Homo sapiens: one gene and its partners. The protein of the gene in region 2 interacts with the protein of the main gene of each other region in a pairwise test. Each region holds a gene or a part of one and is shown on either strand. Other genes may lie near its edges.

The links.
Region 1: the proteins of RRP1B (region 2) and PPP1CB interact in binary tests that used the Homo sapiens proteins (3 or more experiments, as listed by UniProt).
Region 3: the proteins of RRP1B (region 2) and H4C6 interact in binary tests that used the Homo sapiens proteins (3 or more experiments, as listed by UniProt).

The regions. Positions count from the first base shown.
Region 1 is NC_000002.12:28,793,944-28,805,515, forward strand, and holds the end of PPP1CB (serine/threonine-protein phosphatase PP1-beta catalytic subunit), read left to right. Parts: coding exon 1-54; intron 55-5,255; coding exon 5,256-5,360; 3' UTR 5,361-8,997; downstream 8,998-11,572. UniProt on the Homo sapiens protein: Protein phosphatase that associates with over 200 regulatory proteins to form highly specific holoenzymes which dephosphorylate hundreds of biological targets.
Region 2 is NC_000021.9:43,669,535-43,681,495, forward strand, and holds part of RRP1B (ribosomal RNA processing protein 1 homolog B), read left to right. Parts: intron 1-349; coding exon 350-432; intron 433-2,773; coding exon 2,774-2,831; intron 2,832-4,335; coding exon 4,336-4,421; intron 4,422-5,101; coding exon 5,102-5,163; intron 5,164-5,499; coding exon 5,500-5,629; intron 5,630-6,737; coding exon 6,738-6,802; intron 6,803-7,198; coding exon 7,199-7,380; intron 7,381-11,961. UniProt on the Homo sapiens protein: Positively regulates DNA damage-induced apoptosis by acting as a transcriptional coactivator of proapoptotic target genes of the transcriptional activator E2F1.
Region 3 is NC_000006.12:26,234,240-26,243,980, forward strand, and holds H4C6 (histone H4), read left to right. Parts: upstream 1-6,153; 5' UTR 6,154-6,186; coding exon 6,187-6,498; 3' UTR 6,499-6,554; downstream 6,555-9,741. Other genes in the region: H1-3 (histone H1.3), read right to left, coding at 29-694. UniProt on the Homo sapiens protein: Core component of nucleosome. Nucleosomes wrap and compact DNA into chromatin, limiting DNA accessibility to the cellular machineries which require DNA as a template.

The DNA of each region.
Region 1 (11,572 bases), on a different chromosome or scaffold from region 2:
GATAATGCTGGTGGAATGATGAGTGTGGATGAAACTTTGATGTGTTCATTTCAGGTATGATGTAAACATAAATATATAAGAACTAGAAATCTAATAAAAACTATTATCAGAATTCGTTTTAGATTTGTGAAGTTTCCTTGAGCAAGTGTTGAAAGTCTGTTTAATTCAGAAGTGATTACCACTCAAACTCATTAGATATTTCTATTTTCAGTCACAAAGTTTCCAGCATTTGTGGTATATATCAAATATGACCGTTTTAGGGAACCTAAGTTACGTCAGTCATTCTTGATTCAGATGTTTTAATTGTTAAAATTCCTCTATGACCTTTTGAATAGTGGCTTACTAAAAGAATGTGAATGTAATGAATAGTTTAGGCTTTTGTTTTCTTTTGCAAAGTAAATGGGTGGAACAGACACTGGGAAAAGAATTACAAACTCAGATGAAAATAAAGTAAAATAGTTCCCTGGCTGGGCACGGTGGCTCACTCCTGTAATCCCAGCACTTCGGGAGGCTGAGGTGGGCGGATCATGAGGTCAGGTGATCAAGACCGTCCTGGCTAACACTGTGAAACCCCATCTCTACTAAAAATACAAAAAAATTAGCCGGGCGTGGTAGCATGCACCTATAGTCCCAGCTACTTGGGAGGCTGAGGCAGGAGAATGTCGTGAACCCGGGAGGCAGAGGTTGCAGTGAGCCGAGATTGCACCACTGCACGCTAGCCTGGGCGACAGAGCGAGACTTGGCCCCCAAAAAAAAATAGTTTCCTGAGGAAAAAAAACTTTCAAAATAATACTAAACTACCCGTTTATGTCACAGGAACATTTATTTATTTATTTTTTTCTTTTGAGGAAGCACATTGTATACCATGTACGGGGGGTTGTTTGCTCACTTTTATTATAATATTTTTATTAATTTATGTACGTACTAGGTTCAGGGGTTACATGTGCAGGTTTGTTCCATGTGTAAATTACATATTGCTGAGGTTTGGTGTATGAATGATCTTATCTCCCAGGTAGTGAGCATAGAGTTTTTCATTTCACATTCCCCCTCACCCTTTCCACTCTAGTAGTCCCCAGTGTCTATTGTTGCCATCTTTATGTCCATGTTTACCCAGTGTTTAGCTCCTGCTTATGAGTGAGAATATGTGGTATTTGATTTTCTCTTCCTGCATTAATTGGCTTAGGATAAAGGCCTCCAGCTGCATCCATGTTGCTGCAAAGGACCTGATTTCCTTCCTTAATTTTATGGTCGCATAGTATTCCATGGTGTATATGTACCACATTTTCTTTATCCAGTTCACTGTTGATGGACATCTAGGTTGATTACATGTCTTTGCTATTGTGAATAGTGCTGTGATTAACATACAAGTGCTTGTCTTTTTTTGTACATACCCAAAGTAGTGGGATTGCTGGGTCGAATGGTGGTTGTTTTAAGTTCTTTGAGAAATCTACACACTGCTTTCCACGGTGGCTGAACTAATTTACACTCCCACCAGCAATGTTTGAACATTCCTTTTTCTCCACAACCTTGCTGACATCTATTATCTTTTAACTTTTTATTAATGGCCATTCTGACTGGTGTGAGACAGTATCTTGTGGTTTGATTTACATTAATAGTGATGATGAGCATTTTTTCATATATTTGTTGGCTGCACGTTTGTTTTTTGAGAAGTGTCTGTTCATGTCCTTTGCCCATTTTTAATGGGGTTGTTTTTTGATTGTTGAATTAAATGCCTTATAGAGTCTGGATATTAGACCTTTGTTGGATGCATAGTTTGTATTTTCTCTCATTCTATAGGTTGTCTGTTTATTCTGTTGATAGTTTATTTTGCTGTGCAGAAGCTCTTTAGTTTATTTTGGTCCCACTTGTCAATCATTGTTTTGGTTGCAGTTGCTTTTGGGGACTTGGTCATAAATTATTTCCCAAGGACAGTGTCCAGAATGGTATTTCCTAGGTTTTCTTCTAGGGTTTTTATAGTGTGAGGTCTTATATTTAAATCTTTAATCCATCTTGAGTTAATTTTTGTGTATGGTGAAAGGGGTCCAGTTTCAGTCTTCTGCATATGGCTAGCCAGTTATCTTAGCACCATTTATCAAATAGGCAGTCTCTTCTCCATTGCTTGTTATTGTTGACTTTGTTCAAGATCAGATGGTTGCAGGAGTACAGCTTTATTTCTGGCTCCTCCATCCTGTTCCATTGGTTTATATGTCTGTTTTGGTACCAGTACCATGCTGTTTTGGTTACTGTAAGCCTTATAATGTACCTTGAAGTTTGGTAGTGTGACGCTTCTGGCTTTGTTCTTTTTGCTTAGGATGCTTTGGCTATTCGGGCTCTTTTTCAATTTCATATGAATTTTAGAAAAGTTCTTTTCTAATGCTGTGAAAAATGACATTGGTAGTTTGATAAGAAGAGCATTGAATCTGTAAACTACTTTGGGCAGTATGGAGATTTTAACAATATTGATTCTTCTATCCATGAGCATGGAATGTTTTTCCATTTGTTTGCATCACCTCTGATTTCTTTCAGCAGTGCTTTGTAGTTGTAGAGATCTTTCACCTCCCTGGTTAGCTGTATTCCTTGATATTCTTTTTGTGGCTATTGTAAATGCAGTTCTTGATTTGGCTCTCAGCTTGGATGTTTTTGATGTATAGAAATGCTACTGGTTTTTATACATTGATTTTGTATCCTGAAACTGATTAACAAAGTTGTTCATCAGTTCCAGGCACGTTTTGGCGGAGTCTATGGGGTTTTCTGTGTATAGAATCATTATCGTCAGTAAAGATTGTTTATCTTCCTCTCTTCTTATTTGGATGCCTTTTATTTCTTTATCTTGCCTGATTACTCTGGCAGGGACTTTCAGTACTCTGTTGAATAGGGGTGGTGAGAATGGTCATCCTAGTCTCTTGTTCCAGTTCTCAAGGGGAATGCTTCCAGCATTTCCCTTTTCAGTACGATGTTGGCTGTGGGTTTGTCAGATGGCTCTTACTATTTTGAGGTATGTTCCTAATTTTTCAGTGCCTAATTTGTTGAGGGTTTTTAACATGAAAGGGTGTTGAATTGTATTGAAAGCCTTTCTGCATCTATTGAGATGATCATATGGTGTTTGTTTTTAATTTTATGAGGTGAATCACATTTATTGATTTGCATATGTTGAAACCTTGCACCCCAGGAATAAACCCTTCTTGATTGTGGTGAGTTAACTTTTTGATGTGTTGCTGGATTCGGTTTTAGTATTTTGTTGACGATTTTGCATCTGTGTTCATCAGGGATATTGGCCTGAGGTTTTCTTTTTTCCTTGTGCCTCTGCTAGGTTTTGGTATTACAATGATGCTCACTTCGTAGACTGAGTTAGGGGGGAGGTCCTCTTCCTGGATTGTTTGGAATAGTTTCAGTAGGATTGGTACTAGCTCTTTGTACATCTGATATAATTCAGCTGTGAATCTTTCTGGGCCAGGGCTTTTTTTGGTTTATAGGTTTTTTTATTACTGATTCAGTTTTGGAACTTGTTATTGTTCTGTTCAGGATTTTAATTTCCTCCTGGTTCAGTCTTCGGAGTTTGTGTGTGTTTCTATGAATTTATTCATTTCTTAGGAGGTCATGTGTGTTTCTATGAATTCATTTCTTGGGAGCGCATGTGTGTTTTTGTGAATGTATTCATTTATTCTAGGTTTCCTAGTTTGTGTGCACAGGTGTTTATAATCTCTAGGTATTTTGTATGTCTGTGGGGTTGGTTGTAATGTCACCTTTCTCATTTCAGATTGTGCTTATTTGGATCTTTTCTTAATCTAGCTAGCAGTCTATCTTGTTTATTCTTTTGAAGAACCAACTTTTGGTTTCAACATTTACATTTTTAAAAGAGGCCAGTTTTAGCTTTAGTGTGCTCCTACAAATCATTCTTGTTCACTGAGTAAAACAGCTTCAGTACTTTGCTTTTGCAAAGGCTATTCTATGTCTTTGATGTACACACACTGTATTTCTCTTAAAATGCATTGGGGCTTTCCCATTCCTCTTTCTCTTTATCATAATATACTGTTTCCATCAATTAGTACAATTGAATGGTAAATGGTTGATTGCTCATTTACAAATTAAATATAGTAACCATACCTTATCCTTCCAGCAGTTGTCATAGTGGTGTTGGATTAATATATTCTCTTCACTAAGGCACTATTATGTTCTAAATAGTTTTTAAAAAATACTTTGTACATATTTCTATACTGTTTTAGTTTTGGAAAATCATGACTTTTTTATGTATAATGTAGGTTAAAGCTCTATTTACATCCACCAGAATGAGTGTAGTAAAAAAGCCAGACTGTATCAAGTTTTGGCAAGGATTTGGAGGCATTAGAATCTTCATACATTAATGGTGGGAATAGAGTTCTCATATGATGCAGCAGTTTTACCTCTAGGTATATACCCAAGATATATGAAAACATGTTCACACAAAAACTGTTACATAAATGTGCATTATTCCTTATAGCCGAAAAAGTCACACAATTCAGATGTCCATCAGCTACTGAATAGATAAACTGTGGTACATCCATACAATGGACTGTACAATGTACAACTCAGCAATAAAAAGGAATGAAGGACTGATACTTCAAAACTGGTTTTGAAAACCTGAGTGAAAGAAGCCAGTCACAAAAGACCACATATTATATGATGCCAGTTATATGAAATGTTCAGAATAGGCAATTCTATAGAGACACATAGTAGATTAGTAGTTGGTTAGAGTTAGAGGATGTGGAGAGCAGGAATGGGGAGTGACTGCTGATGGGAACAAGCTTTCTTTTTGGGGTGACAAATGTTCTAAAATTAGATTTATATCAATAAAGCTGTTTTTTAAGTAAAAAGATCTATTTATACATAAATAAATAAGGTCTGAAGGGTTTGTGACTTGTAGGTTAGTTACCCTCCTAAGTTACTGTATCAGAATTATGATGACAACATAGATCTTCTGACTCTTAAACCAGTGTTCTTTTCCTCACAACAGAGATACACTAAGTTCAAAAAGTTTTTTACTTAAATCTAAGGATTGGATAGTTGATAGAGTTAGTGTACTTTTGTTATTAAAATATGAGTGGAATGACAAAGTTCAGACATTTGCACACTTTAAGAAATGTTTATGGAACTTTGCTATTCTACATTTTTATTGCATTTTTGCAGTTTATGCCATTTATTGAAAATCACAATTGTAACAATTTTCTTAACTTCTGTACATGAAAAAATAACATTATTTGTTAATAATTTACTTTAAGATATTGAAACCATCTGAAAAGAAAGCTAAATACCAGTATGGTGGACTGAATTCTGGACGTCCTGTCACTCCACCTCGAACAGCTAATCCGCCGAAGAAAAGGTGAAGAAAGGAATTCTGTAAAGAAACCATCAGATTTGTTAAGGACATACTTCATAATATATAAGTGTGCACTGTAAAACCATCCAGCCATTTGACACCCTTTATGATGTCACACCTTTAACTTAAGGAGACGGGTAAAGGATCTTAAATTTTTTTCTAATAGAAAGATGTGCTACACTGTATTGTAATAAGTATACTCTGTTATAGTCAACAAAGTTAAATCCAAATTCAAAATTATCCATTAAAGTTACATCTTCATGTATCACAATTTTTAAAGTTGAAAAGCATCCCAGTTAAACTAGATGTGATAGTTAAACCAGATGAAAGCATGATGATCCATCTGTGTAATGTGGTTTTAGTGTTGCTTGGTTGTTTAATTATTTTGAGCTTGTTTTGTTTTTGTTTGTTTTCACTAGAATAATGGCAAATACTTCTAATTTTTTTCCCTAAACATTTTTAAAAGTGAAATATGGGAAGAGCTTTACAGACATTCACCAACTATTATTTTCCCTTGTTTATCTACTTAGATATCTGTTTAATCTTACTAAGAAAACTTTCGCCTCATTACATTAAAAAGGAATTTTAGAGATTGATTGTTTTAAAAAAAAATACGCACATTGTCCAATCCAGTGATTTTAATCATACAGTTTGACTGGGCAAACTTTACAGCTGATAGTGAATATTTTGCTTTATACAGGAATTGACACTGATTTGGATTTGTGCACTCTAATTTTTAACTTATTGATGCTCTATTGTGCAGTAGCATTTCATTTAAGATAAGGCTCATATAGTATTACCCAACTAGTTGGTAATGTGATTATGTGGTACCTTGGCTTTAGGTTTTCATTCGCACGGAACACCTTTTGGCATGCTTAACTTCCTGGTAACACCTTCACCTGCATTGGTTTTCTTTTTCTTTTTTCTTTCTTTTTTTTTTTTTTTTTTTTTTTGAGTTGTTGTTTGTTTTTAGATCCACAGTACATGAGAATCCTTTTTTGACAAGCCTTGGAAAGCTGACACTGTCTCTTTTTCCTCCCTCTATACGAAGGATGTATTTAAATGAATGCTGGTCAGTGGGACATTTTGTCAACTATGGGTATTGGGTGCTTAACTGTCTAATATTGCCATGTGAATGTTGTATACGATTGTAAGGCTTATGTCACTAAAGATTTTTATTCTGATTTTTTCATAATCAAAGGTCATATGATACTGTATAGACAAGCTTTGTAGTGAAGTATAGTAGCAATAATTTCTGTACCTGATCAAGTTTATTGCAGCCTTTCTTTTCCTATTTCTTTTTTTTAAGGGTTAGTATTAACAAATGGCAATGAGTAGAAAAGTTAACATGAAGATTTTAGAAGGAGAGAACTTACAGGACACAGATTTGTGATTCTTTGACTGTGACACTATTGGATGTGATTCTAAAAGCTTTTATTGAGCATTGTCAAATTTGTAAGCTTCATAGGGATGGACATCATATCTATAATGCCCTTCTATATGTGCTACCATAGATGTGACATTTTTGACCTTAATATCGTCTTTGAAAATGTTAAATTGAGAAACCTGTTAACTTACATTTTATGAATTGGCACATTGTATTACTTACTGCAAGAGATATTTCATTTTCAGCACAGTGCAAAAGTTCTTTAAAATGCATATGTCTTTTTTTCTAATTCCGTTTTGTTTTAAAGCACATTTTAAATGTAGTTTTCTCATTTAGTAAAAGTTGTCTAATTGATATGAAGCCTGACTGATTTTTTTTTTCCTTACAGTGAGACATTTAAGCACACATTTTATTCACATAGATACTATGTCCTTGACATATTGAAATGATTCTTTTCTGAAAGTATTCATGATCTGCATATGATGTATTAGGTTAGGTCACAAAGGTTTTATCTGAGGTGATTTAAATAACTTCCTGATTGGAGTGTGTAAGCTGAGCGATTTCTAATAAAATTTTAGTTGTACACTTTTAGTAGTCATAGTGAAGCAGGTCTAGAAAATAAGCCTTTGGCAGGGAAAAAGGGCAATGTTGATTAATCTCAGTATTAAACCACATTAATCTGTATCCCATTGTCTGGCTTTTGTAAATTCATCCAGGTCAAGACTAAGTATGTTGGTTAATAGGAATCCTTTTTTTTTTTTTTAAAGACTAAATGTGAAAAAATAATCACTACTTAAGCTAATTAATATTGGTCATTAAATTTAAAGGATGGAAATTTATCATGTTTAAAAATTATTCAAGCACTCTTAAAACCACTTAAACAGCCTCCAGTCATAAAAATGTGTTCTTTACAAATATTTGCTTGGCAACACGACTTGAAATAAATAAAACTTTGTTTCTTAGGAGAAAATGATTCTGTAATTCCAGTGTCACTAATTTATATTGTTCTTTCCTCTGATTTTTTTCAGGTTAGTGATTTTTTTGTATACAATTTAATCCAAATGTTATGACATTCAGAAATCATGAAACACAGTAGATATCTGTTATAATGTGGTGTATCACATGGATTATAAAGCAAAGTTATGGTCGATTTCTATTCTTGAAAGAATCAACTACAGTGAATCCTTTGCATTTGAAGCCTTAACATGCATTGCTTTAATTTTGCCCAGGGACAAATTTTAATAATCAGCAAGACTGGTTTGTGCAAAGCGTTGAGTCATCAGGTATTTAGAGCCTAGCCAGCTACCCAGTATCCATGCTGCCATATCCCTTCATTGTAAAAAGTACCTAAACATTCGTGAAATGATTTTTTTTAGCTGAAAAATGCTGGCAAGAAGAATTTTAAAGCTTAAAATAGGTGGTAAATTTGAAGTATGAGTGTGTTCACGAGAAACATAGGCTTTTCAAAAAAATTTTTATTCAAGGCAAAGCAAGGAACATCTTGAGATATGTCTCAAGAATATAAAGATGTATTATTTTAAGCCAAGGAGCTGAAATATATCTCAGTTTATAAATTCAGGTATATTCTTTTTGTCTCCATGGCAACCATAACTTTTGAACCAAAAAAAATTGTTTTTACATCTTTATGCTGAAAATGTGTTTAGATTAGGAATATGGTCGGGCTGAATTTGCTGTTGCTCCCTAACCAAATCCACCTCTTGTTTTCCTTGTGAGTCCATGGCTAAATCAAAGCTGCCCCTGAGAAGAGACTTAATCCAAGCCTGATTGTACTAGTGGCATCACTTAGAAGTAGGCTTTCCCTCTTCCTAGTAGATCTCAATGTTTTATAATTCCTTAAAACAGCTGAAAATTGGGACAACATACTTTACGCAATGAACAGTAGTTAAATAGGAAATAAACTAGTTCCATATAAGTATACACCTAGAGTTTTAATTACCTTTATAATGTTTCTTAAAAGTGAAACTTAGATACAATTGTGATTGGATACTTAGATACTAAGTGAAACTTAGTGTAACAATTTTGATCTGTTAAATTGGATTTTACATGTACATTTGAATGCCAGAATTTCTAAATAAATCCCCTGGTTAGGAAATTTTAAAAGTCAAAGCTTGTTTTCTTCAACCACTACCTTCTACATTGGTTGACTTAGACCGTAAGCTTTTTAAGTTTCTCATTGTAATTTACCTTCTCATGCAGATTGCTGATGTTTTATTAAACCTTATTTTTACAAAAATGACCATAAATCTTTGCTTCTTTCCTCTTAGGGATCTTTGCTAGTTTATGTGATTATGAAATCTTACTTACAACACCACATTGTTTGGGGTATACAGGGTGGAAGATAGCAAGTGAACAGGGGGTGCGGGTGGGGAGGGTTTGTGTGTGTGTGTGTGTGTGTGTGTGTGTGTAAGAGAGAACAAACTAACGGCCTGAGGCTAATAGGTTCAGCATTCCTTTCAGATACTATATGCAAAAAGGTGGGAACCTAAGGTCTGTTCCTGGAGGCTTTTCAGTGAAGCCTGGCATAGGATCGGCAAGTTAAAATATGTATTAATTTTTACAGCTGCCTAATCAGAATGATTCAGCAGATTTACAGGCCAAATTTTTCCTACAAAACCAGTGACATCACAGCTAAACATCTAGAACTTTCATAGATTATTGTACAAATTTATTAAAAGGCACAGTAATTTATGGTCTATCATGTAAACACTGATTCTCGACAAAACCACAAAGGCAAGTAATACAGTGCAACAGAAAAAAGTAGTCCAGAGGAGTTTCTTTTTTTCTTTTTTTCTTTTTTTTTTTTTTGAGAGAGAGTCTTGCTCTTGTCTCCCAGGCTGGAGTGCAATGGCATGATCTTGGCTCACTGCAACCTCCACCTCCCAGGTTCAAGCGATTCTCCAGCCTCAGCCTCCTGAGTAGTTGGGATTACAGGAGCCTGCCACCACACCCAGCTAATTTTTGTATTTTTAGTAGAGACGGGGTTTCACCATGTTGGCCAGGCTGGTCTCTAATTCCTGACCTCATGATCTGCCTGCCTCGGCCTCCCAAAGTGCTGGGATTACAGGCGTGAGCCACCTCTCCCGGCCAAGAGTGTTTTCTTAATGTAACAAGTTTAATCTGAAGTAAGTCTTAAATCTCCTAGTATATTTTTTGGAAAAAAAAAAAGCCAAAGAAACAAAACCAGAGTGTTGAAATGCTACCTCCAATATATGTATAACTCAAACTGATAATTGGCATGGTTTCTGACAGTGCTGCTGTTTACCAGCAGGTTATTGACAGACTGACACCTGTTCCATTCTTGAATAAATATAAACTTTGTCTCTCTAGCTCTTAGTTTAATAAAAATCCCTGAGAAGGAGGATGTGCAGGGTGGAGTTGCTGGAGAAAACTTAATGTCTTGTAGAACTCATAACTACTCAATTTACCAACTTAAAAATTAAGCTACATATTAGGAAATGTAGTTTATCACATGTAATAAGGAATTGAGATTATCAGGAAATCTTGGGTGAGGCTCAGGATCCAACATATAACTGGGCCCAGCACATAAAACTGTTACCTGACTTCAATAAGAAATTTTAGCCGGGCGCAGCGGCTCATGCCTGTAATCCCAGCACTTTGGGAGGCTGAGGCAGGCAGATCATGATGTCAGGAGATCGAGACCATCCTGGCGAACATGGTGAAACCCTGTCTCTACTAAAAACATAAAAAATTAGCTGGGCGTGGTGGCGGGCGCCTGTAGTCCCAGCTACTTGGGAGGCTGAGGCAGGAGAATGGCGTGAATCCGGGAGGTGGAGCTTGCAGTGAGCTGAGATCACGCCACTGCACTCCAGCCTGGGCGACAGAGCGAGACTCCATCTCAAAAAAAAAAAAAAAAAAATTTTAGAAACACAGATCTCTGCCTCCCAGTGTAATTGCCTCAGATTTTGTAGCACATCTCTTAACTGCAGCTTGATAATTCCACTGAAATTAATTCTATTGGTCATATTAAAGAACAGGTTAAAAAGTCTTTATTGCTGTACTGTAAAGCCTGTTTTGAGTGGAAGACCCTAATCTTCTTTTAGTGAATTCCCCAAACTCTGGGTATGCTCACTGACAACACAAGTTGTAATCCCTTTTTTTTTTTTTTTTTTGAGACAGGGTCTCACTCTCTCGCCCAGGCTGGAGTGCAGTAGCCTGATCACAGCTCACTGAAGCCTCAGCCTCCCAGGCTCAAGTGATCCTGCCGCCTTGGCCTCCCAAAGTGCTGGGAGAATTATAGGCATGAGCCATCATGCCCAGCCCATTTTATTTTTAATATATCATCAATTATTTCTTATACAGATCCATTAGGATGTTGAATGCTCCTTTAAAACTTTGTTGTATTTGTCGGCCAGGCGCGGTGGCTCATGCCTGTAATCCCAGCACTTTGGGAGGCCGAGGCGGGCCGATCACGAGGTTAAGAGATCGAAACCATCCTGGCCAACATGGTGAAACCCCGTCTCTACTAAAAAAAAAATACAAAAATTAGCTAGATGTGGTGCGCACCTGTAGTCCCAGCTCCTCGGGAGGCTGGGGCAGGAGAATCACTTGAACCTGGGAGGTGGAGATTGCAGTGATCCAAGATGGCACCATTGCACTCCAGCCTGGGCAACAAGGGAAACTCCGTCTCAAAAAAAAAAAAAAAACTTTGTTACATTTGTCTTTAAAAGTCATAAGGCCTAGATCAGTCTTGTATGTGACTAGAATGTAGCTCTATGGGCAGGGTTTTTTGTTTTTTTTTTTTTGAGACAGGGTCTTGCTATGGTGCCCAGGCTGGAGCACAGTGGCACAAT
Region 2 (11,961 bases):
AAATGTCAGTGTGCAGGATGGCTGCACGTGGTGGGCGGGGAGGGCGTTGATGAGGAGCCGATTTCATAAGTGGCCACTTTGTTCATGAATTTTGTGTTGTGATGACATTTGCTTCCTCACGCTGAGGCCGGGCCACCACTGCCACCCTACCCTGTAGCTGATAAAGCTGCAGGTACAGTAGTAATTTATTTGTGTTTCTTTTATAACAATAAGGAAATGTTTGCTTCAATTTTTTAAAAAGACGTGCAAACGAAAGAGAATTAAAATGTATGTGATACTTCACCACTTTCTAAACTTGAAGAAAAGAGATGCATAGACTCTAAGATGTTTGTATTGTTTTGCCTTCCAGGAGGTTTCAGTCAGGAAGAACTTCTGAAAATCTGGAAGGGGCTCTTCTACTGCATGTGGGTGCAGGATGAACCCCTTCTACAGGTAACATGCGTTCCCTTTGTCATGCTCCCGGGTTCTTGCTGTGGATGGATAAGAGACTTGATCACTCATGCTGTGCCAGTCCCCCGATACACTGACGCACACTGACAGTCATGCTTCAAGGAGTCATTTTCGTACCTCTTGTCCATACAGAAAGGGATGCAGGGTCAACACAGTTAGGTGAATTGTCTTTTCAAATAAAAGGAAAGATGTGCATTCGTTGTCAATTTACTATTTCTCTGTAAAATTTCATAGGTTCCATGCTAGGTTTTACATTACTTAAAGTTTCTCTCTTCTGGTAAGTTTATTTTTTGTGGTCAAGGATGGCATGACAGGAGCACTAACTAGTCAAGACCCTGTGAAACCCAGGAGAGGGCAGCCGCGTCACTGGGCTTCGGGTTCCATGGAGAGCAGCAGTAGCGCTCAGCGAAAGCCTCCCTGTTAAAGCCGAGTGCGCCTGCGCAGTCACCCAAACGCGCAGCAGGCTCGGTCTCTCTGTGCGGGGCCTGCTGAGCCCGCTAAGCCCACCACCAAAGCCAACACTAAAGATGTGACTTTCACTTTTTAAAAGCTTTGTTCTGACCCATGAAAGTAGATCCGATCTGCCTCTGTAGAGGGAGAGCAGGCTTGTCCAACCCACAGCCACATGTGGCCCAGGATGGCTTTGAATGCAGCCCAACACAAATTCGGAAACTTTCTTAGGACCTTATGAGATTTTTTTTTTTAAGCTCTTCACTATTACTAGTGTTAGTGTATACTGTGTGTGGCCCAAGACAGTTCTTCCAGTGTGACCCAGGGAAGGCAAAAGACTGGACACCCCTGAGGTAGAGGAACCAGCCTTGAGAAGTGCTTGCAAGTCTCTGATGCAGATGACAGGTCCTCAGGGCAAGATTTTACTTTTCTGGGTTTTAATGTGCAGCCTTGCCACTTCTCCCGTGCTGCGTAATAACTTGTTTTAATTTATTTTTATTTTACTGAACATATTTTGAGTAGGAGCAGGGCAAAATATTTTTATATTACATTCAAAAGTAACAACCAACAGCTTTAGTGGAGGAAGAAAACCAATGGACAGAAATCTCATTTTCCCACGAAGGAAAACAGACCGGGTGTGGTGTGAGTCAGACTGATGAGGAGTGTGCTTTTCTCACGGAACCTCAGAAGAGAGGGCGTCTCCCCAGAGTGAGCCTGCTGCACCTCAGCAGGGCATGCTCTCTCAGGGACCCCTTCACCCAGGACAGAGCCCAGAAGGCTGAGTTTACCTTCACATTCCACCTTGTCTCTGAGCAAGCTGTAGGGAGGACTTTCCCATGGCGTGCAGTGAGCATCCCCAGCATCTCACCTCTGTGAGGTCTGCCCTGCTGTCTTTGTGTTTCACATCATTTCTGGGATTATGATGAAGTTTTCTTTTTTTTTTTTTTTTTTTACAGAGTTTCACTCTGTTGCCCAGGCTGAAGTGCAGGGGTGCCATCATGGCTCACTACAGCCCCAACCTCCCTATTGCTCAGCTGATCCTCCTGCCTCAGCCACCCGAGTAGCTGGGACTACAGGTGCACGCCTCCATGCCTGGCTAATTTTTGTATTTTTTGTAGGGACTGGGTCTCATTGTGTTGCCTAGGCTGGCGTTGAACTCCTGGACTCGAGCGATCCACCCGCCTCGGCCTCCCAAAGTGCTCGGGCTCCCATTACAGGCATGAGCTGCCCAGCCCAGCTTAGATGGGGGTTTTTTGGTTGTTGTTGTTGTTTTGAGATGGAGTCTAGCTCTGTCACCCAGGCTGGAGTGCAATGGCATGATCTTGGCTCACTGCACCCTCTACCTCCGAGTTCAAGCAATTCTGTCTCAGCCTCTCGAGTAGCTGGAACTACAGGCACACGCCACCACGCCTGACTAATTTTTGAATTTTTAGTAGAGATGTGGGGAGTGCCATCTTGGTCAGGCTGGTCTTGAACTCCTGACCTCAGGTGATCCACCTGCCTCGGCCTCCCAAAGTGCTAGGATTACAGGCATGAGCCACTGCACGTGGCCAGATATAGTTATAAAGCCAGGAACTGATAACTAATTTATTTCATCTCTAGTTCATCTGAACTGATAATTAGAGATGCTTTTTTAAACATGTAGCTTAACACAGTTCTTGCAGACATACCAAGTTAGCATAATAGTCCGTCAATATTGGAACTTACACATTTGATAAAATTCAGATATTCGGATACATACTTCTTAGTGGAAGTGACAAGAGGGGCAGACCTTCCCACGAGCGGAAGTGGGAGAAGGAAGCAGGCCGCGGCACAGGCATCTCATGTTGCCCCACGATAACCCCCATGTTTCTCCCCAACCCCGCCTCTGCAGGAAGAGCTCGCCAACACCATTGCACAGCTAGTCCATGCTGTTAACAACTCAGCGGCTCGTAAGTCCTGTTGTTTCTTCTCCTTCCTTCCAAGTTTTCCGACTTGCTAGTTTAATGGGAACCTTGTGCCGGTATTGTGTAGATGTCAGGGGACAAGCCATTCCTGTTTTTAAAAGCTGTGATAAACTTAGTCATTGACTTGGTGAGAGGGCACAGTGTCTTGGGGAGAATCAATTTGACATCTCAAAGATTTCAGAAAATGCTTTTAGAAATAACAATCCTCCAGAATCTTCAAATTCTGAGTTACTTTAACACTTGGAGCCTGGAGAGCCAGATGCAGGGTCCACGGTGACCTCTGGATGCCAGGTTCGTCTTCCCCAAGAGCAGAGCCGTCACTGGTAATAAATACATAGAAGACACCACCGGTCACAGACTATGAAGTAACTCCTCTCAACCATAGAGAAAAAAAATTAGTTAGGGTGCTTCTGTGTCAGGCGTTGATTGCTTATAAAGGAAGAAAAAGGTAGCCGACTTCGTTTGTTCTGCTTAATGCTCTTCAGAAAAGCATCCTAATGATTTCAACCACCCCCAGTGGTGCTCTGAATATTAGCTGACTCATATTGAACAAAATTCTACATATGATGTATAATAGATTTACAAAGATGAAAAAAGAATTGTGCAAAAAGAAATAAAGCCAAAAAATCAACAAAAATTGTTTTTGAATAAAAAAGTGCTAGTTCTGTGGGTCAGAAGAGAAAAATTCAGTGTTTTGTACCGTAGCTCACCCAGATGCCACCTATAATCAGACAAAAATATGAGTTTCTATATGGATTATATAAGTGTCAGAATTAATGGTTTTGAACTGATTGTGAGGTACCAGTGCAGTAGGAAGAGTTACTAGAAGTGGAACAAGGAGTCTTGATTTTAAAAGAAACGTGGCTTTGCAGTGGATAAAGGAAAAATGCTCCAGAGAGCGCTCAAATCTGACATTGCAATGTTGCCAGCCCTTCCGGTTATTCTGTTTTTATTTAAATTCAAAAGACCAAGGCCAGGCACGGTGGCTCACGCCTGTAATCCCAGCACTTTGGGAGGCCGAGGTGGGTGGAACACCTGAGGTCAGGAGTTTGAGACCAGCCTGGCCAACATGGTTAAACCCCGTCTTTACTAAAAATACAAATATTAGCCGGGTGTGGTGGTGCACACCTGTAATCCCAGCTACTCGGGAGGCTGAGGCAGGAGAATCACTTGAACCCAGGAGGCAGAGGTTGCAATGAGCTGAGATCATGCCATTGCACTCCAGCCTGGGCCACAGAGTGGGACCCCGTCTCCAAAAAAAAAAAAAAAAAAAAGTAAAAGATCTGCACAGTCTAAGTGATGTTTAATAAATAAGTGTAAAAGAAATGATTGAGTATATTTAATTATCAACAGATTTTCTAGCTGCCCAAGAATTACTGAGAAAAGTGAATAATAAATAATGCTAGTTTGTTCCTCTTCATTATTTTCTTGCTATATGGTAGTATGTTGATGTGGAAGCCAAGTATTTAGAGCCTTTTGTTCACTGCAGAACACCTGTTCATTCAGACCTTTTGGCAAACCATGAATCGAGAATGGAAAGGAATAGACAGGCTACGCCTGGACAAATACTATATGGTAAGATCTGCCGCAGTTACTTCAAAAACTCCTGGGAAGAAAAGAATGTCCTTTATCTTAAAAACAATGGGAAGGTTTATTTGTGAAGCAAAACAAGCCACAGGCTTAGTGTGAAGGAAGAATTTGAATGTGTCCTGGAAAGCTTCTCTGTTTTGGCTTTTGCAGTTCTTAAGGATGAGTTTGGGGAGCATTAGTGAATACGTTGGGTATTTTTTGAGACAGAGTCTCTCTTGCTCTGCTCCCCAGGTTGGAGTGCAGTGGTGCGATCTCAGCTCACTGCGACCTCCGCCTCCTGGGTTCAAGTGATTCTCATGCCTCGGCCTCCTGAGTAGCTGGGATTACAGACGCGCACCACCATGCTTGGCTAATTTTTGTATTTTTAGTAGAGATAAGGGTTTGCCATGTTGGCCAGGGTGGTCTTGAACTCCTGGCCTCAAATGATCTGCCCACCTCAGCCTCCCAAAATGCTGGGGTTACAGGCATGAGCCACTGTTCTTGGCTATGAATATGTTTTTTGATCTAGAAGGTAAATATGACTGTTGTGAATATTTTTTTACTTTTGGGATCCAGGCCATAACAATTTCATTGGTCCCTTCATTCTGCTGAGCTGATTAATATTTCTTACCTTTCCTTTTTTTTTTTTTTTTTTTTTTTTTTAAACAAAAATTGCCTTTCTTTAGCTGATTCGTCTGGTCCTGAGGCAGTCCTTTGAAGTCTTGAAGCGAAATGGCTGGGAAGAAAGGTCAGTAAACCATTTGAGTTAGCATGTGGTAGCCTTAAAACTTAAAAGGTAGTAGAGTGTCAAGTTTTCTGAACTTGTAGAGTACCAATGAGAAGCTCGATACATCGTTACCTATAGAGAATTGAAATCCAGTAGAAGGCATAAAACAGTTAAGTATATATGACAGTTAACATTTTATCCTGATTTAAGTGATTGCTTTTTTCCTTGTAAAATGATTTCAGCCTTGCATTGATTGTTAGGCTGTGTAGGTTCTAGACGGAGTATTTTTGTTTCTCTTTGGGAAGTGGGACGTGTTGGCATACTGTCATTCACAGAAGCATGCGTTTGGTTCTTTAGCCGAATCAAGGTTTTCTTGGATGTCCTGATGAAGGAGGTCCTGTGTCCTGAGAGTCAGTCTCCTAATGGAGTGAGATTCCACTTCATTGATATTTACCTGGATGAACTCTCCAAAGTCGGGGGGAAGGAGGTAAGCAGCTGCCGACAGGCTGCCCACGGGGTGAGGGGGCCGCCAGTGTTCGCAGTAGTCGCCAGTGAAGTGCTGTGGGGTGGCCCTTCGCATGACCAGCGACTGTAGCAGCGTGAATTGCTTCAGTCCTGTCTGGGAATGTGTCCTAAGCAGCTGGTGGGATGGGATTTGTGCACTGAGGATGTACATGACAGTCTTACCTGTAAAACGGAATTGAAAGCAACCTACAGACTCCACTAAAGAACTCACTAACACGGGGGAGTACTCAGGATCTAGGGAGCTTTATAAAGCGCTAGGAAAAGCTATGCAAATGGTAGACATTTTTAAGGTATATACTCATAAATAGACAAAAGGCTGGAAAGGAAACATACATTTTTTAGTATGCAAATGATTCTCTGAATGTGGGAATGTGCACAGATTTTACTTTTCTTTCACAGGTGTTTTGCAGGGAACATGTATTTTTTTGATTAAAAGAAAATATGTTATATTCAAAACAATAATTCTTTTGTCTCACACTTGGAGGCACTGTCCCTGTTACCCCTCTTGTAGAGGAAGTATATGTATGTCCTGTATCAGGTTTGTCCAGCCCGCAGCCTGAGAGCTGCATGGGGCCCAGGGCAGCTTTGAATGTGGCCCAACACAAATTTATAAACTTTCTTAAAATATGAGGGGTATTTTGCATTTTATTTTATTTTATTTTATTTTATTTTATTTTATTTTATTTTATTTTATTTTTAGCTCATCAGCTGTTGTTAGTGTTTGTGTATTTTAGGTGTGCCCCAAGACAGTTATTCTTCCATTATGGCTTGGGGAAGTCACAAGATTGGACACCCGTGTTGTATATGTTGGGCATATAGGATAGTGCAGGTCAGGCTGGGTGGCTTTCTCCAGCCACTGCACTAAGATACCAAGTAGCTGGAGGGCGGCCTCAGTCTTCAGCCTGGCTCCAGGCTTCTGTGGCATTCCACAGGGGCGCTTTGGGGCTGTGTGAGACAGGCATTGCTTGGTCTAACTCCACCTTTGTAAAAGATGGGAATGGTCCCTTTTTCAAGGACATGTCAAGAAGGGAAAGGCTCTTTCTCAATTTTTCCCTTTTTCTAAATTACAGCTTTTAGCAGATCAGAATCTCAAGTTTATCGATCCATTCTGCAAAATTGCTGCGAAGACGAAGGAGTAAGTGATTCCCCTGTTCGTTCCTCCTGCTCCGTGGCATTTGCTCATGGGAGTTACTTGCCGTCGTGCAGCCTGGCACAGGGTACCCAGGACACTGCTTCACAGCAGAGAGCGGCTGGAGAAGACAGCCGAAGCTTTGAGCAGTGATTTGGCTCTTCTAGCTTCAGTATTTGCCTCACTCATTCCAGGAATGCCCTCCCACACCCAAAGATCTGACCGCTGGGCGTCCCGTGCCTGTCGGGTGGCACTTAGGCAGTTCCTCTCAGATGCTTGCTGGCCCGTGGGGGCCACTCCAGACCACAGCAACGTGTGCAGGGCTTCCCTCTGTGCCCCTGAAGCCAGAAGGCCAGGCCGTTTGTTCTCATCACATGCTCTCCGCTGTGCTTCTACCCTCAGCCACACCCTGGTACAGACCATAGCTCGGGGTGTCTTCGAAGCTATCGTAGATCAGTCTCCTTTTGTGCCTGAAGAGACGATGGAGGAACAGAAGACAAAAGTGGGTGATGGTGACCTCTCTGCTGAGGAGATACCTGAAAATGAGGTATCCTTGAGAAGAGCTGTCAGTAAAAAGAAGACAGGTAGGAGGATGTTCTTGGTCAGTGTAGCTTTCTTTCTGCTAAAATCCTCCTCAGACAAACAGTTTTTAATACATTTGTTGGCATCTTACTGAATGCAACCTAGAGTTGATGGCTCTGCCTCAGCCCCTCCCAAGAAAGGCAGCAGAGGTGGGTTCATTGTGCCTGGGGGGTGCCTAGCGGGGCTCTGGGGAGACCTGAGATCTGTCCCATGTGGCATACACACATTTCTGTACCTCTCAGGATCTCAGGACTCTCCTCGAGGATTTTACCATTGTCACTGCTAGTGCTTTTTGTTTGCTTTGTTGTTTTTTGTTTGACACGCTAACACCTTAGCATGCATGGCCTCATTTCTACGGGTTACTCGAGGGACGTACGCTTGTTTCTGTGGCTGTCCTTTCTCAACTCATGGCTTCCTTCAGGGAATGTTTTTCTTTTTCTTGGGATGTTTAAATGCCTACTGTGTACTGACATAATTCTTACTACTGTTTTGTGTCTGGACTTAATGTAGAATGTGCATTTGAAGTTGCAGGCCCATCCAAACTCTCACCACAGTGCTTTATGGCATCTGAATGCACAAAATAAGGGAAATGGTTAGATCACAGCTTACCCATGCTTTTGAAGTGTTGTATACCCATTTAAAAGCAAAGCTCCTAAAAACTAAGGACCAAAGGAAATGTGACAGACATATATATATATTTTTTAAAGCAGGGTACAAACTCTACATAGAAGGAGTCTGATTTGTTGTTTGGGTTTTCTTTAATTATTATGGCTATATAATAGTTGTGCATCTGATTTGTTTTTAAACGTTTATTTGTGCTTTTATTTTAAGTGAGAACATAAAATGTTTGGTTTTCCATTCCTGAGTTACTTCACTTAGAATAATGGTCTCCAACTCTAGCCAGGTTGCTGTGGATACCATTATTTCATTCCTTTTTATGGCTGAGTAGTATTCACGGTGTATATTCCGCATTTTCTTTGTCCACTCATTGGTCAATGGGCATTCAGGCCGGTTCCATGTTTTTGCAGCTGTGGATTGTGCTGCTATAAACAAGCGTATGCAAGTGTCTTTTTCATATAGTGGCTTCTTTTCCTCTTGGTAGATACCCTGCAGTGGAACTGCTGGATCAAATGGTGGATCTACTTTTAGTTCTTTAAGGAATCTCCACACTGTTTTCCACAGTGGTTGTACTAGTTGACATTCCCACCAGCAGTGTAGAAGTCTTCCCTGTTCACCACATCTGTGCCAACATCTTTTTTTTTTGAGATGGAGTTTTGCTTCTTGTCACCCAGGCTGGAGTGCAGTGGTGCCATCTCAGTTCACTGCAGCCTCCACCTCCCAGGTTCAAGCAATTCTCTTGCCTCAGCCTCCTGAGTAACTGGGATTACAGACACCTGCCACCAGGCCCAGCTAATTTTTTGCATTTTAGTAGAGATGGGGTTTGATCATGTTGGCCAGGGTGGTCTCAACCTCCTGACCTCAGGTGATCACCCACCTCGGCCTCCCAAAGTGCAGGGATTACAGGCATGAGCCACCGCGCCCGGCCACCAACATCTATTATTCTTTGATTTTTTAAATTATGGCCATTCTTGCTGGAGTGAGGTGGTATCTGATTATGGTTTTCATTTGCATTTCCGTGTGTTTGTTGACCATTTGTATATCTTCTTTTGAGAACTGTCTGTTCATTTCCTTAGCCCACTTTTTGATGGGATTGTTTTTTTCTTGCTGATTTGTTTGAGTTCCTTGTAGATTCTGGATATTAGTCCTTTGTTGGCTGCATAATTGGCAAATCTTTTCTCCCATTTTGTTTGTTTATTCTGCTGATTATTTCTTTTGCTGTGCAGAAGCTTTTTAGTTTAATTAAGTCACAGCTGTTTCTGTTTTCATTGCATTCACTTTTAGGTTCTTGGTCATGAACTCTTTACCTAAGCCGACATCTGGAAGAGTTTTTCTAATGCTATCTTCTACAATTTGTATGGTTTCAGGTCTTATATTTAAGTCTTTAATCCATCTTGAGTTGGTTTTTCTATAAGGTGAGAGATGAGGATCCAGTTTCATTCTTCTTGACAATTACCCCAGCACCATTTTTGAATAGGGTGTCCTTTCCCCACTTCGTTTTTGTTTGCTTGGTTGAGGATCAGTTGAGTGTAAGTATTTGGGTTTATTTCTGGGTTCTCCTGTTCCATTGGTCTACATGCCTATTTTTATACCAGTACCAGTACCATGCCATTATGGTGACTATGGCTTTATAGTATAGTTTGAAATCGAGTGTTCTGATGTCTCCGGGTTTTTGAGGGTTTTTTGTTTTTTTGTGTGTCTTTTTTTTTTTGGTGTTTTGGTGTTTTGGGTTTTTTTTGGCGGCGGGGAGGGGAGAGAGACAGAGTCTTGCTCTGTCGCCCAGGCTGGAGTGCAATAGTGCGATCTCAGCTCACTGCAACCTCTGCCTCCCATGTTCAAGCGATTCTCATGCCTCAACCTCCCTAGTAGCTGGAATTATAGGCGGGTGCCACCACGCCCAGCTAATATGTCTTTGTATTTTTAGTAGAGATGGGGTTTCACCATGTTGGCCAGGCTGATCTCGAACTCCTGACCTCAAGTGATCCACCAGCTTCAGCCTCCCAAAGTGCCGGGATTACAGGCATGAGCCACTACTCCCAGCCTCTAGATTTATTCTTTTTGCTTAGTCTTGCTTTGGCTATGCAGGCTCTTTTTTGATTCCATATGAATTTTAGGATTGTTTTTTCTAGTTCTGTGAAGAATGATGATGGTATTTTTATGGGCATTGTGTTGAATCTGTAGATTGCTTTTGCCAGTATGGTCGTTTTCACAATATTGATTCTACCCATCCGTGAGCATGGGATGTGCTTCTGTATTTCCATTTGTTTGTGTCATCAGTGACTTCTTTCAGCAGTGTTTTGTAGTTTTCCTTGTAGAGATCTTTCACATCCTTGGTTAGGTATATTCCTAAGGTTTTTGAGGTTTTGTTGTTTGTTTTGTTTTTTGTTGTCATTGTTGTTTTGGTAGGGGTTTTTTTGCAGCTGTTGTAGAAGGGAGTAAGTTCTTGATATGATTCTCAGCTTGGTCGTTGTTGGTGTATAGCCATCATACTGATTCATGTAAATTGGTTTTGTATCCTGAAACTTTGCTGAATTCATTTACCATTCTAGGAGCTTTTTGGGTGAGTGTTTAGGGTTTTCTAGGTATATGATTGTATCATCGGCAAACACGGACTTTGACTTCCTCTTTACCAGTTTGGATGCCGTTTATTTCTTTTCTGTGATTGCTCTGGCTAGGATTGTTCGTGCTTTTAAAAAATCTGGAAGGATAAACCAAAATGTTTTATTTATTTATTTAGAGACAGGGTCGGCCGGGCGCGGTGGCCCAGGCCCGTAATCCCAGCACTTTGGGAGGCGGAGACAGGTGGATTACGAGGTCAGGAGTTCGAGACCAGCCTGACCAACATGCTCAAACCCTGTCTCTACTAAAAATACAAAAAAAAAAATTAGCCAGGCATGGTGGCACATGCCTGTAACCCCAGCTACTCAGGAGGCTGAGGCAGGAGAATCACTTGAACCTGGGAGGCGGAGGTTGCAGTGAGCAGAGATCGAGCCACTGCACTCCAGCCTGGGCGACAGAGGGAGACGCCATCTCAAAAAAAAAAAAAGAGAGACAGTGTCTTGCTCTGTTGCCCAGGCTGCAGTGCAGTGGAGCAGTCATGGTTTATTGCGGCCTCAACCTCTTGGGCTCAAGTGATCCTCGCACTTCAGCCTCCCAAGTAGCTGGGACCACAAGCACACACCTCTTTATTTTTTGTAGAGACAGGGGTCTCACTATATTGCCCAGGCTGGTCTTAAACTGTTAGGCTTAAGCATTCCACCCACCTCAGCCTCCCAAAGTGCTGGGATTAAAGGCATGAGCCACCACACCTAGCCCAAAATGTTAGTATAGTTAGCTGTAGGTGGCAGAATTATGGGTGATTTCTGTTTCCTTTGTACTTCTCTATTTCCTACAGTGATTATATATTATATTTAATCAGAAAAAATCAAGCCGGTTGCAGTGGCTCATGCCTATAATCCCAGCACTCTGGGAAGCCCAGGCAGTCGGATAACTTGAGGTCAGGAGTTCGAGACCAGCCTGGCCAACATGGTGAAACCAAGTCTCTACCAAAAAGTACAAAAATTAGCCAGGTATGGTGGCGGTCGCCTATAGTCCCAGCTACTTGGGAGGCTGAGGTGGGAGAGAATCACTTGAACCCAGGAGGTGGAGGCTGAAGTGAGCCAAGATCGTGCCACTGCACTCCAGCCTGGGCAACCAAGCAAAACACTGTCTCAAAAAATAAATAAATAAACAGATAGATAGATAGATAGATAGATAGATAGATAGATAGATAGAATCAAGAACCTTTTTTTTCTTTTTAATTTTTAGACCTGGTGGACGGGAAGTAATTTTTTTTTTTTTTTGAGATGGAGTTTCGCTCTTGTCGCCCAGGCTGGAGTGCAATGGCGCAATCTCAGCTCACTGCAACCTCTGCCTCCCGGGTTCAAGCAATTCTCCTGCCTCAGCCTCCCAAGTAGCTGGGATTA
Region 3 (9,741 bases), on a different chromosome or scaffold from region 2:
ATTTTCAAAGGGGAACGTCCCGCCAGTTTCACTTTTTCTTCGGAGCTGCCTTCTTTGCCTTTGTAACCTTCGGCTTCCCCGACTTAGGCTTGGCCGCCTTGGGCTTAGGGGCTTTGGCCTTAGCTGGACTCTTGGCAGCTTTTTTTGGCTGAGGTGTTTTCACCTTTTTCGCACTCTTGGCCACTTTCTTGGTCCCAGCAGCGGTTGCTGGCTTCTTTACCTTCTTAGGAGTCTTTTTGATGCTTTTCTTCGGGGTAGCGGCGCCAGCCACCTTCTTGGGCTTCTTGGCTGCCCCAGCAGGCTTCCTAGGCTTGGCTGCGCCAGCCTTTTTGGCCTTGGGTTTGCCTTCCCCGGAAGCCGCTTTCTTGTTGAGTTTGAAGGAGCCAGAAGCACCGGTACCTTTGGTCTGCACCAGAGTACCTTTGCTCACCAAGCTCTTGAGGCCAAGCTTGATACGGCTGTTGTTTTTTTCTACATCGTAGCCAGCAGCCGCAAGCGCTTTCTTAAGCGCGGCCAGAGAAACGCCGCTGCGCTCCTTAGAAGCTGCCACTGCCTTGGTGATAAGCTCAGATACTGGGGGTCCGGATGCTTTGCGTTTCCCAGCAGTTGCGCCTGCCTTCTTCGCCTTTTTCTTCACAGGTGTTTTTTCTGCGGGTGCAGGAATGGTAGGAGCAAGTGGAGCAGTCTCCGACATGTTTTTGTCTTCCCAGAAAAGACAATAAGTAATCTCAAACTGTCAGAACAGCATGTCCTCTACGAGGGAGGCTGAGGGTTTATATAGAGAGACGCTGAGTGATGATTGGTTCCTTGCTCCATGCGCGGCGCTGCTGGAAAAGGACTCCTCGTATCTACCGCGCTGCTGTGTTTGTTGCCCCTTAAAAAAGAGTAAAAATATAAGAAATCTGGGCATGAAATAATTAGAGACTTGGGGGAAACTGATCCGAGAGAGTTCGGGCTTCATTCCTGCCTTTGTTTCTATGCATAGTTTTAAAACCGGCATCTTGAAACTTTTCTTATTCCCCCAACTCTCTTTCAAACTTCGGTCAAATCGAGACAACTTTCATGTTTTCCTTAAAAATACTATTTCTCCCTCTTTCATTTGCAAATCTCTCTTCCAGGGCATTGTTCTGTGAATTCTTACCGTCTCAACTTTATATAGATAAACTCATTTTTATCCAAATGTGCAGGGAAATTGGGTTTTTTCGCAGGAACAATAGCACAGGCTCTCTGGCGAGCTGTTTGCATCAACCTCTAGGAATTGGCACTGAGGTAGAAAGTTCTATGTACAAGAGGGGTGATTAGTTTAGAAAAGATAGTTTAAAAAAAAAAATAGTATTTGAGTTACCAGTGTGTAAGCTGGATTTGATCTCCATATTTCAGTGGTTTAAACATTTCCAGAAAGATAAGGGTGAGGCTACATTATTCCTCTTACAGAAAAAAAAGTCCTAAGTAGAGTTACCAACCTTCTCTTAAAAGTTAGGATCATGGATTTTTCCGATCTAGAATGGGCATTAAAGATCAACTACCACATCCCCAAAAAAGAAAACTGAACCAACAAATAATAGAATGGCAGGCCAACATCATTTTGGCAACTGTGAGCATTGAGAGCTTGTGTACATGTTTGTGTCCCATCACTTTATAAATAATTTAATGAAATACACTATTTTTTTGCTAATATTCATCATAGAATTTTGTACATTTTTTATATTTTAAAATCATATTTATAATACAAATTTCCCTTCCTCTTTCTCTGTACAACCTGTTTGAATAACTGGTAAAAGTCACTTTAAAAAAATAAAATACAAATTTTCAACATTGCAAGTGTGGGCATCAAGGGTTAGAAAGAAAAATATCTGATTTAAATCACTGTAAATTTTCATCATTCTACTTGGCTTTTTACACACAAAATATGAACTAAGCTGTCACACCCTAAATTAATTGGTTGAATATGTCCACCTAAGGAGCTGAACAAACATTTCAAAGCAAACATGAGTAACTTCAGTATTCTTTATCTGTTAGTTTGCAATACAGCTGATGGAATTAGGTTATTATTAAATAATTAAGCACAAAATTGATATTCTCCATCAAGTAATCAGATGCTGAAATGAACTCCTATGTTGAAGAAACAAGAGAAGTAGTTTGATGTTATGTTTCTTCTAACAAAAATACTCATTTCAAAAAATCAAGTTATTCTGGCCTACACTCAATAGTGATTAGAGGATTTTTTCATATAAATCCTAGATAAAATAATCAACTTTAAAGATGTCATCTCTCCTCATTCAACTAATTTCATAAAAATTACTTAGCTTGTCTTGGCCAGGCGCAGTGGCTCACGCCTGTAATCCCAGCACTTTGTGAGGCCATGCTGGGCAGACCACCTGAGTCAGGAGTTCAAGACCAGCCTGACCAACATGGTGAAACCCTGTCTATACTAAAAATACAAAAATTAGGCGGGCATGGTGGCACACGCCTGTAATCCCAGCTACTTGGGAGGCTGAGGTAGGAGAATCGCTTGAACCCGGAAGGCGGAGGTTGCAGTGAGCCAAGATAGTGCCATTGCACTCCAGCCTGGGCAACAAGAGTGAAATTCCATCTCAAAAAAAAAAATTACTAAGCTTGTCTTAAGTAATTATTTACTCTCTTGCATGTATTAGAAACAAGTCTCTGGGACTTAAGACCGTGTTATACACCACTGAAATACAAATGTGGTTTATAAAAAAGCTAAACTTATAGAATTGGATTAGTAGGACCCCACAATTCCAGTAGGGAAGCATTTTATAGGTTTCTGGAGGCAGGGGCGGTGCATCATTATGGATATCATTTTCAACAGTGATAGTCACAAGCATACTCTAAGTATTTTTTTTTGGGACCATAGCTTTATATTGCCTAGACGTAAAGGTACAATTAAAATTCAGATTGTTTACTGTTTATTATTTTGATCATTATTGTAGTCTTAATAGTTGTTGAATAATTGTTGGAATTGTTCACCGTGTTAGATATAGTCAATTAACAGATGCCACCATTTCATTCTTGTGCAACACTGACTGGTTCCCATAGCTACTTAGGATCTCAGTAAGTAAAAAGGCATTGGGCTAACTAATCTCTGCTCTTTCTGGAGGGCAATAACTGAGACTCAGTTTCACCAACAAAGTTCGCCAGATGTTCAAAGAGGAAAGGGGCTAGGCTACATAAGTTGGGACCTGGTACTTATCTTCTCTGTAATTGTAGCAAGGACAAGGTTCCTGAAAGCTGGATCACCCCATGGACTGTAAACTTGAAGTCCTGCAAAGTTTCACCTATTACTTTGGTAGCCCTCAAAAAGAGTTCTGTGTTGCTTTGGAATCCTAAATCTGAATATAATCTAAAACAGTAGATTTCCCATTACACTGAGGTTGGAACCATTTATTTTATAGATGCAAAAAGTAGCTAGGAAAAACTAGTTAGATAAGTGATAGCTATCTAACTTAAGGCCCAGTGTTCTCTTCATTTTGTGTTAACTCCCCCATCCCCACCACCACCATAGTAAATGACTATGAGAGTTGTAGGTAGTATTCAATAGATCAATCCAGTGACACTGTGCTTAAGCATCACACAATTCAGATTTTAAAGATTTCCAAAAAAAAAAAAAGAAACTATATAGAATAAATATTAAAAGGGGTGAAAACATATATAGACTATTATAGAAAATAAAGCTTTGTGTTAGAATCAAACGTGTTCAAAAAGTCCATGAGAAATCACATCGATTGTAACCGTCTATGAGGTAGTCTTACCTGAGGACACTGGCTCCTTGAAATTCCTCTTCAAGTACAACAGTATTGTGTTAATTTTATTTCCTAAGAAGGCCACTACTATACTCAAACTTACAGTTTTCTCTTTACATGTCTCAGGCATCCACCAAACTCCCTCCTCCCTTCTAGACTGGATTAGAAGCTCTTCAGAAGAAACCCCCTTATCACAGATACAGCCCAATAAAACTTTCTGCGATGATAAAAATATTCTGTATTAACACTGTCCAATAGGTAGCCACTAACCATATGTGGCTACTGAGTACCGTAATGTGGCTAGAGTAAGTGTGCAAATTAATTTTTAATTTAAATTAATTTAAATAAAAATGAGCACATGTTGCTAGTGGCTAATATAGGACAGCAGAGCTTTAAAACAATTATTCTCAAACTTGGAAGAGCATACCTACCACCCACTTAGAGATCTCATTAAAAATGTAATATCAATTCCATTGATTTGGGGTTGGGCCCGAAATTCTGTATGTCTAACAAGCTTCAGAGTGATGCCAGTATAGCTGGGATATGGCTGCTCCGCCCTTAAATACCTGACAGTAAGTAGAAGTATGCTGGTCTGATATCTGCCCCCTAACCCTGAGTGTACTTTTCCCTTTACTAAACTTTTGAGTTCTTTAAGAGAATAAATGTGATTATCTTTGTAAACCTGGTATTTGTACACTATTCTTGGCATGTAGTGGACATTAAATTGTTGAATGAATGAATGATGCTTGTTTGGTGCCTACCTCAAAAAGGAGAGCACTTGAGATCCTTGTGTCTATTCCTACAGGTAACTGAACCTAAGCCAAAATTTAAGTAGACTCTTAACTCCACAAAATGAATAATCTTCTCACTGCTTTTAGGCACCAGCAGAGACGGGATTTTTAAGTTACCCTTGCAGTATATAGGAGGCAATGAATGTGAAGCAGTAGACTGTAAGAGTTAATGTTGAATTTTTCTACTACACATACCCTATGATCTGTGTGTAGAACACTTCTTCCGGAATCTTTTATTAGGACAGTATTTCACAGAATTTATTAGTATTATTTTTGTTAATTTACAAACCTTTATTCACCATGATTTACCATGTATGCTTTAGTGGCATGAAAGCAGTGGTAGGTAGCAAGGTAGTGAGACTCCAGAATCGAGCCAACAATACAATGCCATTTATTAGAGGATAATGTCTTCAAGCCTGGGATTCCTTATCTTTACACCTCAGATATTGCATTATACATTGAAAAACTAAGAATGAAACTTCAATTAATATTGGTTTCCCTTACTAGAGGTCTTTCTTTATTAGGAATGCCAAAAACGATGTGAATGTATATGTCTCTGCCAAACGCTAAGTCTCATGATTGGCCAAATTTAAGAAGTATTGCTACATTTTAAGAATTAATAAAAATGGCCGGGCGTGGTGGCTCACGCCAGTAATCCCAGCACTTTGTGAGGCCAAGGTGGGTGGATCACCTGAAGTCAGGAGTTCGAGACCACCCTGGCCAACATGGCGAAACCCCGTCTTTACTAAGAAAATACAAAAATTACCCAGGTGTGGCGACGCGTGCCTGAAATCACAGCTACTCGTGAGGCTGAGGCATGAGAATCGCTTGAACCCAGAAGGCGGAGGTTGCAGTGAGCCGAGATAGCGCCACTGCACTCCAGCCTGGGCAACAGAGTGAGACCCCGTATCAAAAAAAAAAAATTAGTAAAAATACATTTTCAAAGAATCTTCACATTTAAAAATTAAAGCTAGGCGCCTGTAATCCCAGAACTTTGGGAGGCCGAGGCGGGTGGATCACCTGAGGTCAGGAGTTCGAGACCAGCCTAGTCAACATGGCGAAACCCCATCTCTACTAAAAATACAAAAATTAGCCGGGCGTGGTGACGCGCGCCTGTAGTTGCAGCTACTGCAGGGGCTGAGGCAGAAGAATCGCTCGAACCCGAGAGGCGGAGGTTGCAGTGAGCCGAGATCACGCCACTGCACTCCAGTCTGGGGCAGAGCAAAACTGTTTCAAAAGAAATAATAATTTTATTCTCTTGTCTATCCATTCGGTAGACAAGTGTAGCGTTACTGCCTCCTTTTTGCAAATAATAAGGATTTTAGGAGACAGACATTATCAGTTCGAGAGCCCACAGGCACTGGACTAGAAGACACAGAAACCTACACTCAAGACCCAAACAAGGAAACAGGAAGGAGTCAAATCAACTTGCATTTCCCCTACCCTCACCGCCCCCTTTCCTTCCCAAGGCAATAGTGTAGGGGACGCCCAGTAAGTTACGGAAAAGGCGGAGACAGAGGTTTCGTTCCCGCCCCTCCAATTCAGTCTCCAAAAAGGTCCGCATAATTGATATATAAGGGGCTTCAGTGTGTAGCAAAGTTGCAAAAGTTAAGAGTTGTTGTTTGTCTTCGATCATGTCTGGTAGAGGCAAAGGTGGTAAAGGTTTAGGAAAGGGAGGCGCCAAGCGCCATCGCAAAGTGCTGCGTGACAACATACAGGGCATCACGAAGCCCGCCATCCGTCGCTTGGCCCGACGCGGCGGCGTGAAACGCATTTCGGGCCTCATTTATGAGGAGACCCGCGGTGTTCTTAAGGTGTTCCTGGAGAATGTGATACGGGACGCCGTAACCTACACGGAGCACGCCAAGCGTAAGACAGTCACTGCAATGGATGTTGTCTACGCGCTCAAGCGCCAGGGACGCACTCTGTACGGCTTTGGTGGCTGAGCCTCACCCCGGCTTTTTATTTAACAGCTCACCCATAAAAGGCCCTTTTCAGGGCCACCTCCTTCGTCACACGAAGGGCTGTAACTGATGACGACTTGGGTTTCGTTTTGTAAATTTGGGATTCTAACTGAGTTAAACCGAGCCGTTTTTAGCGATCTTCCTAAGATGGCGGATGTGCTAAGGAGAAAGGGAAGGCGAAACATTAGAAACTTGTTCAGGTATTTCGATCGCAAACATTCACAGGAAAAGATGGTGGAAATGGTTTGGGAATACCAGCAGCCTTTTATGACGTATGTGATGTGTTTTATTCCCACGTTTCTGAAATTTACTCCTATGTTAGGTGGCTGGGACTTAACTACACTAGCATTACATGTTTAGTTTTTGAGATGGAGTTGCTCTTGTCCAGGCTGTAGTGCAATGACGCAATCTCGGCTCACCGCAACCACCCCCTCCCGGGTTTAAGCGGTTCTCCTGACTCAACCTCCCGAGTAACTGGGGTTACAGGCATGCGCCACCACGCTTGGCTAATTTTTTATTTTTAGTACAGAAGGGGCTTTTCTGTGTTGGTCTGGCTGGTCTCGAACTCCCGACCTCAGGTGATCCGCCCTTCTTGGCCTCCCAAAGTGCAGGGATTGCAGGCGTGAGCCACCGTGCCCGGCCTTAGTGTTATTTATTAGGCATAGAACGTGAGTAATCTTAGGGCGGCTGTGGACAGATCAATTACTGGTAAACTTAATCCACTACTTGTGTCCGGGCGCGGTGCCTCAGGCCTGAATCACAGCACCTTGGGAGACCACGGCGGGCGGATTACTAGAGCTCAGGAGTTCGAGACTAGCCTGGGCAACCAAAATGGTGAAACTCCGTCTCAACTAAAAAAGTTAAATAGGAAAGTTAGCCCGGCGTTGTGGCGGACGCCTGCTGTCGCAGCTAATCTGCAAGGGCTGAGGCAGGAGAATCGCTTGAGCACGGGAGGCGGAGATTTCAGTGAGCTGAGATGGTGCCACTCCACTCCTGCCTGGGCGACAGAGACCATGCCTCAAAAAAAAAAAAAAAAAAGTAAAGTTTGGCCGGGCTCGGTGGCTCATGTCTGCAATCCCATCTGTAATTCCAGCAGCTTGGGAGGCCGAGGTGGGTGGATCACTTGAGCTCAACGAGTTCGAGACCAGCCTGGCTAGCACTGCAAAACCTCGTCTCTACTAAAAATACAAAAATTAGACGTAGACGTGGTGACACGCGCCTGTAGTCCCAGCTACTCGGGAGGCTGAGGCAGGAGAATCACTTGAACCCGGGAGACTGAGGTTGCAGTGAGCCGAGGTCGCGCCACTGCACTCCAGGCCTGGGGCACAGAACAAGGCTCCGTCTCAAAAAGAAAAAAAAAAGCCCAAGTTTTTGTCTTACCCAGTGAATTCTTTGTTGGGGCACTTACTGTGATTTCAGGTCATTGATAATTTTACTGCTTTATTTCTCAAGTACTGGTAATTTATAACCCAAAGTGTTTCTCCTTGTGCTTTGTCAACCTACCCGGTTATCACCCGCGATCCTGACTCCTAACGTTTTCATTTTTTCACCATACCGAAGAAGTGGCTTCTCATCTGTTCTTTTTTTGTCAATGGTAATTCATTACATACACTGTTCCACAAATATTCTTCAACTTGGGGTTTCCTCTTCAAGAAGCCTTTACCTGATTCCTATGGGCAAAATCGGTGTCTGGGGTTTCCTTACAATTCACGAAGCACACTCTACACATGTCCCTAGCCCTACTTCAGAATTCCCTATACGACTTAGGAGCTACTGCACACTTAAATAGTTGGGAGTAATTCTTGCCCTCTTCCCAAGATATTTTCAGGTCTTGAACAATGTCTTTAATTTAGTATCCTCAGGATGTAGTATTTAGTTCATAAATGTTTGTGCAATGACTGAAGGAATCAATGAAATTAAGCTATCTGGGCCATCACCAATATACCGTTATAAAAATCATTCCCCTTTAATTAAGCAATATCTCTACTCCCACAGAACCATCTTCTCTATTCACCTTTACACAAATGTCAATATTCATGGCTGCCAACAATTTATATTACAGACTTTTTAAAATGCAGATTGAGATCCATTCACGGGTAATGAAAATAATTTAGTGGGTCCCAACCAGCATATAAAACGTAAATAGAATCCAATATAACAACTAGAAATTATCAAAGTATCCCATCTAGTAAGTAAAAATATTGTGTCATAAAATTTTAGTTTCAAATAGATGTACTTTTGGTTTTACTTTGGAACTTGAAGGAGAAAAGGTTCAAAAGATACTGGTCCATTTATTTAATGTATATATTTGTCAAATTCTCAGGTTAGGACATTGCCTCACTTCCCTGGGTTTCAGAACTTCAATACTCAGCCTCATTTGCAGCTGGAATGCAGATCTGTAACCTAGGCTTCACCAATGAGTCACAGGTTTAAAAGACTTATCTTCAAAAATGGGACCCAGGAGAGAAGAGACTGCCTAAAGCCTCTGTTTCTGCTGTGACAGATGTCAGATGGGCCAACTTTTGGTAGTAGCAGCAGCCATAGGTTACAGGTGAGTCAAGTTCTGATTCAGAAATAACAGGTGTGACACACCAGCACCTGACTAGTTCTGCAGCACAGCTTTGGAGTTTGTCCCTGGGAGTGTCATCAGGCGTGGTTCTACAGCCCTCCCAAGAATGCTAATATCTATTCAATATCCCTTTAAACATCACAGTTAATGTGCGATTACCAGTCAGCTGGCAACTAAGAATTTAGAGTTTCAAACAAAAAGGGTTTTAACTATTTTCTAATGGACTTTTGTGTATTTTAGGAATTCGGAGTCGTTTTACAACACTATTAAAAGGTTTTATGCCTTACTATACTTCTGGTAGCAATAATGCCTCCCCCCCAGATGCCCGCATCTTAATCCCAAAAGCTGCGAATATGTTTCCTTAAATGGTAAAAGTAACTTTCCAATGTTATTAAATTAAGGCTTTTGAGATTGGATGATTCTGGATTACCTGAGTGGTGCCATTGTAATCACAAGGATCCTTATAAGTAGAAGCGAGGAGAGTCAGAGTCAGAGAAGTGATAAGGGTAATGGAGTGTGATGCCTTTTGTAAACAGAGGAAGGGGCCACACTAGTTGCCCTTTGTTTCCTGAAACACATAAAGCTTTTCTCACCTTGAGATTTTCCACTTGCATGTCCTCTGGCCCAGAACATCCTTGGCGTGGCTCCCAATCTAT